2 linked regions of the Homo sapiens genome follow. The gene in region 2 interacts genetically with the main gene of each other region. Each region holds a gene or a part of one and is shown on either strand. Other genes may lie near its edges.

Region 1 (3,500 bases), on a different chromosome or scaffold from region 2:
CAGGTCCAAGGGGGCTCTGGGCTGGGATTACAAAGTATGTGTGTGCAGACGGGTGGGTTGCTGCTCTCAGGGAATGGGGTTGGCTAGGGTAGCTTTTTTGGGGAGTCAACTTTATTGAAGTAAATATACGGTTGACCCTTGAACAACACAGGGGTTGAGGGCATCAACCTCCTCCCTGCAGTCAAAAAATCATATATTAACTTTTGACTCCTCAAAAACTTAACTACTAATAGCCTATTGTTGTCAGAAAGCCTTGTAGATAAAGTTGATTGACACTCATTTTGTTTGTTATATATATTATATACTGTATTCTTACAATAAAGTAAGCTAGTGAAAATAAAATAAGAAAATCATATGGCCGGGTGCAGTGGCTCACACCTGTAATCTCAGCACATTGGGAGGCTGGGGCAGGCGGATCACTTGAGGCCAGGAGTTCAAGACCAGCATGGCCAATATGGTGAAACCCTGTATCTACTAAAAATACAAAAATTGGTCTGCTGTGTTGGCGCACGCCTATGATCCCAGCTACTCAGGTGGTCAAGGCATGAGAATCACTTGAACCTGGGAGGCGGAGGTAGTTGCAGTAAGCCGTGAGTCACCCCACCACTGCGTTCCAGCCTGGGCGACAGAGTCTTGCTGTCTCAAAAAAAAAAAGAAAGAAAATCATAAGGAAGAGGAAATATATCTACTATTCTTTAAGTCGAAGGGGATCATTATGAAGGTCTTCATCCTTCACATTGAGTAGGCTGAGGAGGAAGAGGAAGAGTTGGTCTTGCCGTCACAGAGGTGGCAGAGGTGGAGGCGGAGGAGGTGGAAAGGAAGGCAGAAAAGGCAGGCACACTCAGTGTAACTTACTGAAAAACATCCAGCCACGTGTGGTGGCGCATGCCTGTGGTAATCGCTACTTAGGAGGCTGAGGCAGGAGGATTGGCTGAACCCAGGGGTTTGAGGCTGCTGTGAGCTATGATCACGTCACTGCACTCCTGCCTGGGCAACAGAGTGAGACCCTTTCTCAAAAAAAAAAAAAAAAGAAAAGAAAAAGAAAAAATCCATGTGTAACTGGACCTGCGCAGTTCAGACCCGAGTTGTTCAAGTGTGCACTATACACCAAAAAGTGTGCCGATCGCAATGGTACAGCTCAGTGAATTGTCACAGAGTGGACCCACTTCATGATTGGGCTCAGACAGTCTGAAAACCAACCCCAGAGGTCCCCTTGCATTCCTTCCAGTCTCCCTGTCCCAAGAGCAGCTATCCTGACAGCATGGATTAGTTTGGCCAGATTTTGAACTTTATTCAAATGGAATTACATAATATGTACTTTCCTGTGTCTGGCTTCTTGGTTAACATTTTATTTATTTATTTATTTATTCATTCATTTAGAGGCAGGGTCTCACTCTGTCGCCCAGGCTGGAGTGCAGTGGTGTGACCTTGGCTCACTGTAGCCTTGACCTCCCCAGGCTCAAGCGATCCTCCCACCTCAGCCTCCTGAGTAGCTGGGAGTACAAGCACGCAGTACCACCCCCGGCTAATTTTTGTATCTTTAGTAGAGACCGGGTTTCGCCATGTTGCCGAGACTGGTCTTGAACTCCTCCTGGGTTTAAGCCATCTGTCTGCCTCAGCTTCCCAAAGTGCTGAGATTACAGGTGTGAGCCACTGTGCCTAGCCATCATTATGTTTTGAAATTTATCGGGATTGGCCAGGCACGGTGACTGGCACCTGTAATCCCAGCATTTTGGGAGGCCGAGGTGGGTGGATCACCTGAGGTCAGGAGTTCGAGACCAGCCTGGCCAACATGGTGAAACCCCATCTCTACTGAAAATACAAAAATTAGCTGGTTGTGGTGGTGCATGCCTGTAATCCCAGCTACTCAGGAGGTGGAGGTTGCAATGAGCCGAGATTGTGCTACTGCACTCCAGCCTGGGTGACAGAGCCAGACTCCATCTCAAAAAAAGAAAAGAAAAGAAATTCATCAGTGTTATTTAATGGTTGGAGTTTGTGTTGGAGTTTATTTAATGGTTGGTGTTTACTGCTGTACGTAGTCCCTTTTGTGAATATGCCACTGTTTATCCATTTTCCTCTGGATCGGCATCTGGGCAGCTCCCAGTTTGAGGTTTATTACAAAGCATGCCACTTGTAGCCCTCCTGTGCCTGTCTAGGCAGACACATGTCCTGTGTCCTCTCGGTGTGTACCTAGAAGTGGGGTTGGTATATGTTTAGAGATGCTACCTGGGCGGGATTTTGCAGGTGAAGGACCCAAGGACCCACAGAGCATAAGGGACTTTCTCAGATCACATAGCCCCTTCTCAGAGCTGCTCCGGGGCCCCTTTCCCCACAGAACAGTAGCTGGAACCAGGCCTGGGGCTGACGGTCAGGTGTCCATTGTCCCACTAGCCCCCTTTGCTCCTTTCTATCAGTCCTGGAAGGCCCCCTGTGGCCTTAGGGTTGGTGGCTCCCTCTGCCCCTGGGGGTCCTCAGCCCTCATGCTCCTCTACCCAGTACCGTCAGCCTGCCAGGACTGGAGAGAATGGCCCATGTGTCAAATCCCAGCGCAGGACACTCTTGGCACCTGTTCATGCCCAGTGAGGAGCCAGATCTCAGCAGTTGGGGGGCATTTCTTCACACCCCTCCTCAGTCTTCATGCTCTTCCCCACAGCTCTAATGGTACCAAGTGACAGGTTGGCTTTACTGTGACTCGGGGACGCCAGAGCTCCTGAGAAGATGTCAGCAATACAGGTACCACAGGGGTGAGGGTCTGGGACATGCAAGCATTCCCACCAGCCCCAGCGGGGTGCTTAGCAGAGGAGAGAGGATGCAGCTTAGATCAACCCACTCCCCTTTTTCCCAGCACTCAGTCAGGTACAGGCCTGGGGAAGTGGGGGAGTCTCAACAGGAAGGGACCCAGGGCTCGTTCTCCGGGCAGAGCACCTCACCCAGGCTCACAGAGGCCAGCTCAGAGGCTGTGACCACGAGGGTGCGCCAGCAGGTGGCTGGAGGGGGCCCAGGCTGCACCCGCCCACGTGTCACCTGCCTTGCAGGCCGCCTGGCCATCCGGTACAGAATGTATTGCCAAGTACAACTTCCACGGCACTGCCGAGCAGGACCTGCCCTTCTGCAAAGGAGACGTGCTCACCATTGTGGCCGTCACCAAGGTAATCAGGTGACGCCCACCCCACCATCCCACTGCTGGGCCTTCCCTCTGCAGGGGGAGGTGGGCCTGAGAGCATGTCTGGGCTGCCCTCTCCCCAGGACCCCAACTGGTACAAAGCCAAAAACAAGGTGGGCCGTGAGGGCATCATCCCAGCCAACTACGTCCAGAAGCGGGAGGGCGTGAAGGCGGGTACCAAACTCAGCCTCATGCCGTGAGTACCACGAGGAGGGGTTGGGGAGGGAAGGGGCCTTGGTCCTCCTGAAGGAGCATCAGGAGCAAGCAGGGAGGCCAGAGTGAGGGGCTTGGGTGTTGGGGAGGGCCTCAGGAGGAGGTGCAGGGTGCGGGTGCGGGA
Region 2 (3,500 bases):
TGGCTACAACTTCCAGCACTATGTTGAATATGAGTGGTGAGAGGGACATCCTTGTCTTGTTCTGGTTCTCAAAGGGAATGTACTTCCAGCTCTTGCCCACTCATTACAATGTTGGCTGTGGACTTGCTATAGATGGTTCTTATTATTTTGAGGTATGTTCCTTTGATGCCTAATTTGTTTTGAGGTGGCCTCCATCTTTTATGAAGTAAAAACATATAAAATGCAGAAATTACTCAGAAGCAGATATAAACATGCTTAGGCCAAATACGCAAATAAAAATTAGAAACACATAAAGTAAATAGCATATGACCAAGTGTTAGGTTTTAATAACAATAAGAAATTACAGTAAATCTGGCACTATGAAAATATATATTTATCATAATGTGAAAAAAAAAACCAAAAAACAAGAATTCCCAAGTGCTCAAGTCATAGCCAGAGCAATCAGGCAAAAGAAAGAAATAAAAGGCATCCAAATATGAAGAGAGGAAGTCAAACCATCTCTCACACAGATGATATAATTCTACACCTAGAAAACCCATAGTCTCTCCCCAAAGGCTCCTGAATATAAGGGCTCTCTTTTAATATAAAATAATATCCTGGTCACCCAAAACCATCAAGGTTGTCCTTTCAGCTTCTGTGTACTGAGAAAATACATGATGGAAAAAGGCTGCTAAGAATTTAGTGAAGATTTAAAATGAACTTGGAGTTTATTAGTCAGAAGTATAGCTATAAAAATTTGAAGAGCTGTACAAAGATATATGAAATAAATTATTTGGTCTACAGAAAATGCTTGCTTCAAGTATGGATTTGCAGATGCTTTGCAAAATGCCATAAAGCTACTACCCCCATCACCCACATCCCAGGGTCCACAATATACAGACTGAGAACCACTGACTTAAACCAATACTTTGAGAAGAGTATTATAGGAAGCCATGTTCTACATCCTCTGAGTTTAAAATTATGATTAAAAGATCCCTCCCCAAAATTAAACACTGTTCAGGGAACTTTGGGACTATTTTAAAGAACAGAAGAGGTGTAAATATAATGAATTAGGCAACTTATAAGAAAGAATCCTATTTCTAGCTACAGTTACAGATTTAAAGCCCTAGCAGATAACATGTACAGAGGGCTTTGTAATATTTCTTAAACTAATTAAGAAAAATAATCCAAATCTGTACTACCAATTGTGTAATTACCACTGTCTCCTTGCTGAGACGACCGCATCACACAAAGGAGATGGAAGAATACCAAGGCAAGGCCAAATGTGGCTTGAGTCCTACCAAGCCACTGCTGCTTCCTTTTTTTCCCATATTGTATCAAGCCTTTTCATCCCAGAGTACCCAACTATCCTCAAATTACCCAGCAGCTAAATCAGGGATACTCTAAATATTCTAGGCATGTTTGGGTTCAACACAGAATGAGGGGAAACAACTAAATTTCTATGACAATATGTTCAAGTGAAAGAACAAAAAACTCTCATGGTGACTTGGTAAATGCTGACCAGGCCACAAACTACAATGCAAAGAATTGTTTGGGGCCTTAAATAGCAGCTGAACATAGTTACTACTGTTCCTAGTGTGGAAACAGTTAAAAAGGACATTCCAAAGGCTGTTTATCCATTTTAGCATGCTCAAAATCCTCTCTGGCATTACATGCAAATCCCCCTTAACGGAACATGGCTGGATTCAATGCCATATATTTTTTTGACTATGTGTAACTCACTGATTTTGATAGTTCTTTCTTTTAAACTTTCTTCAAAGATTTTAAACTATGTATCAAACATTTATTGAATGCCTACTTTGTCTGAAACAGCATCGGTGTGTGACTTAGGGCAAATAATCTGTACTTAGCGTTCTCATCTAAAAAATGGAGATATCACAACCCATCACCATAAATCATAGAAACATACTGAAGTTTCAAATAATGTGTAAATATTATTTGAAATAAGATAATGCACTTAAGCACTTAGAAGAGTGTCTGGCACATAGTAAGAACTTAAATGCAATTATTATTATTATTAATCTCCTTTTCTATATAATAATAGCTTCCATAAGGGCACTGCATGAGTTATTAATTTATTAGTTATCACAGTGACTGTTATTTAACTGTTTATGTGAATTTAATCCCCCAATTAAAGTGTAGAATTCTTGAGAGCAAGGAATACATCTGTCATTTTTTTTTTAAGGCGATACAGTATAGTGATTATTCACATAGACTCCGAGCCAGACCACCTGGGCTCAAGTTCTGGCTCCACTTCTTATTAGCAGAGTGATCTGGGCAACATATTTTACCTCTGTCTCCCATTTCAATAATTTTCGCCATCATCTACCCAAAAAGCCCCAAGATAGAAAAACGGAAGTCATCCTAGACACCTTCCTCTCTATCGTTCAGCCTCCTTCTACACAATCCAATTACCAATCTCTAAGATTCTACACTTTTAACATCTCTACTCTTCATCCTGGTTCTCCACTTTCATTGATATTCCAGGCTTTCATTATCTCTCATCTACACTACTCAAAACAGTCTTAAAGGACATGGAGGACTGAGAAGTAGAAGTAGGCATAAGTTGTTGCTGGTTGGTAGAAAATGGTGAGCCAAAAAACTAGGAAAAACAAGAGAATTCAAAGGACAATGACAGATTAGTTGAGCTAGAAGAAGGGATTTATAGAAAAGAGTAATATTATAAAGTTCGAAAACTAAACTAGGAGGCCAGGCATGGTGGCTCACGCCTTAATCCCAGAGCTTTGGGAGATCAAGGTGGGTAGATCCCTTGAGCCCAAGAATTCGAGACCAGACTGAGCAATATAGTGAGATCCTGTCTCTATTAAAAACAAACAAACAACAATAACAAAAAAACAAAAAACTAAACTAGAGCCAAATTGTGAAGAGTTTTACATTCCAAGCTAGAGAATCTCAGTCTTAAACCTGTGGAAATTACCTCTTCTTTTTCAATGGTAACATATTTACTACTAGTATTAACATGATTAACTGTATAATGTCTTGCCCATACTTCCCTTCTTCCTCCCCATTCTCAAATAAATGAAAAACATACTTTAAATCTGTATGTTATTATAATAATACCACCTATTTAGATTGTACTATAAAAACAGACAAGGCACCAGGCGCGGTGGCTCACACCTGTAATCCCAGCACTTTGGGAGGCCGAGGCAGGCGATTACGAGGTCAAGAGATCAAGACCATCCTGGCCGACATGGTGAAACCCTGTCTCTACTAAAAATATAAAAATTAGCTGGGCATGGTGGCACGTGCCTGTAGTCCCAGCTACTCTGGAGGCTGAAGCAGGAGAATCACTTGAACCCAGGAGGTGGAAGTTGCAGTGAGCCAAGATCACACCACTGCACTCCAGCCTGGCAACACAGCGAGACTCTGTCTCAAATAAAAGAAAAAAAACAGGCAAGGTGCAGTTCCTCATATTAGCACATGCTCACAAAAAAATAACTATAGTCTTCAGATGACAGGAAAGTATTGAAGTTTCAAAT

Evidence for each region.
Region 1: changes in ATF6 (region 2) and CSK are lethal when combined (synthetic lethality), as found in Homo sapiens cells (one large-scale study listed by BioGRID).

Annotation. Positions count from the first base shown.
Region 1 is NC_000015.10:74,795,580-74,799,079, forward strand, and holds part of CSK (tyrosine-protein kinase CSK), read left to right. Parts: intron 1-2,632; exon of another isoform or gene 2,633-2,653; 5' UTR 2,654-2,718; coding exon 2,719-2,733; intron 2,734-3,035; coding exon 3,036-3,149; intron 3,150-3,246; coding exon 3,247-3,359; intron 3,360-3,500. UniProt on the Homo sapiens protein: Non-receptor tyrosine-protein kinase that plays an important role in the regulation of cell growth, differentiation, migration and immune response.
Region 2 is NC_000001.11:161,793,820-161,797,319, reverse strand, and holds part of ATF6 (cyclic AMP-dependent transcription factor ATF-6 alpha), read right to left. Parts: intron 1-3,500.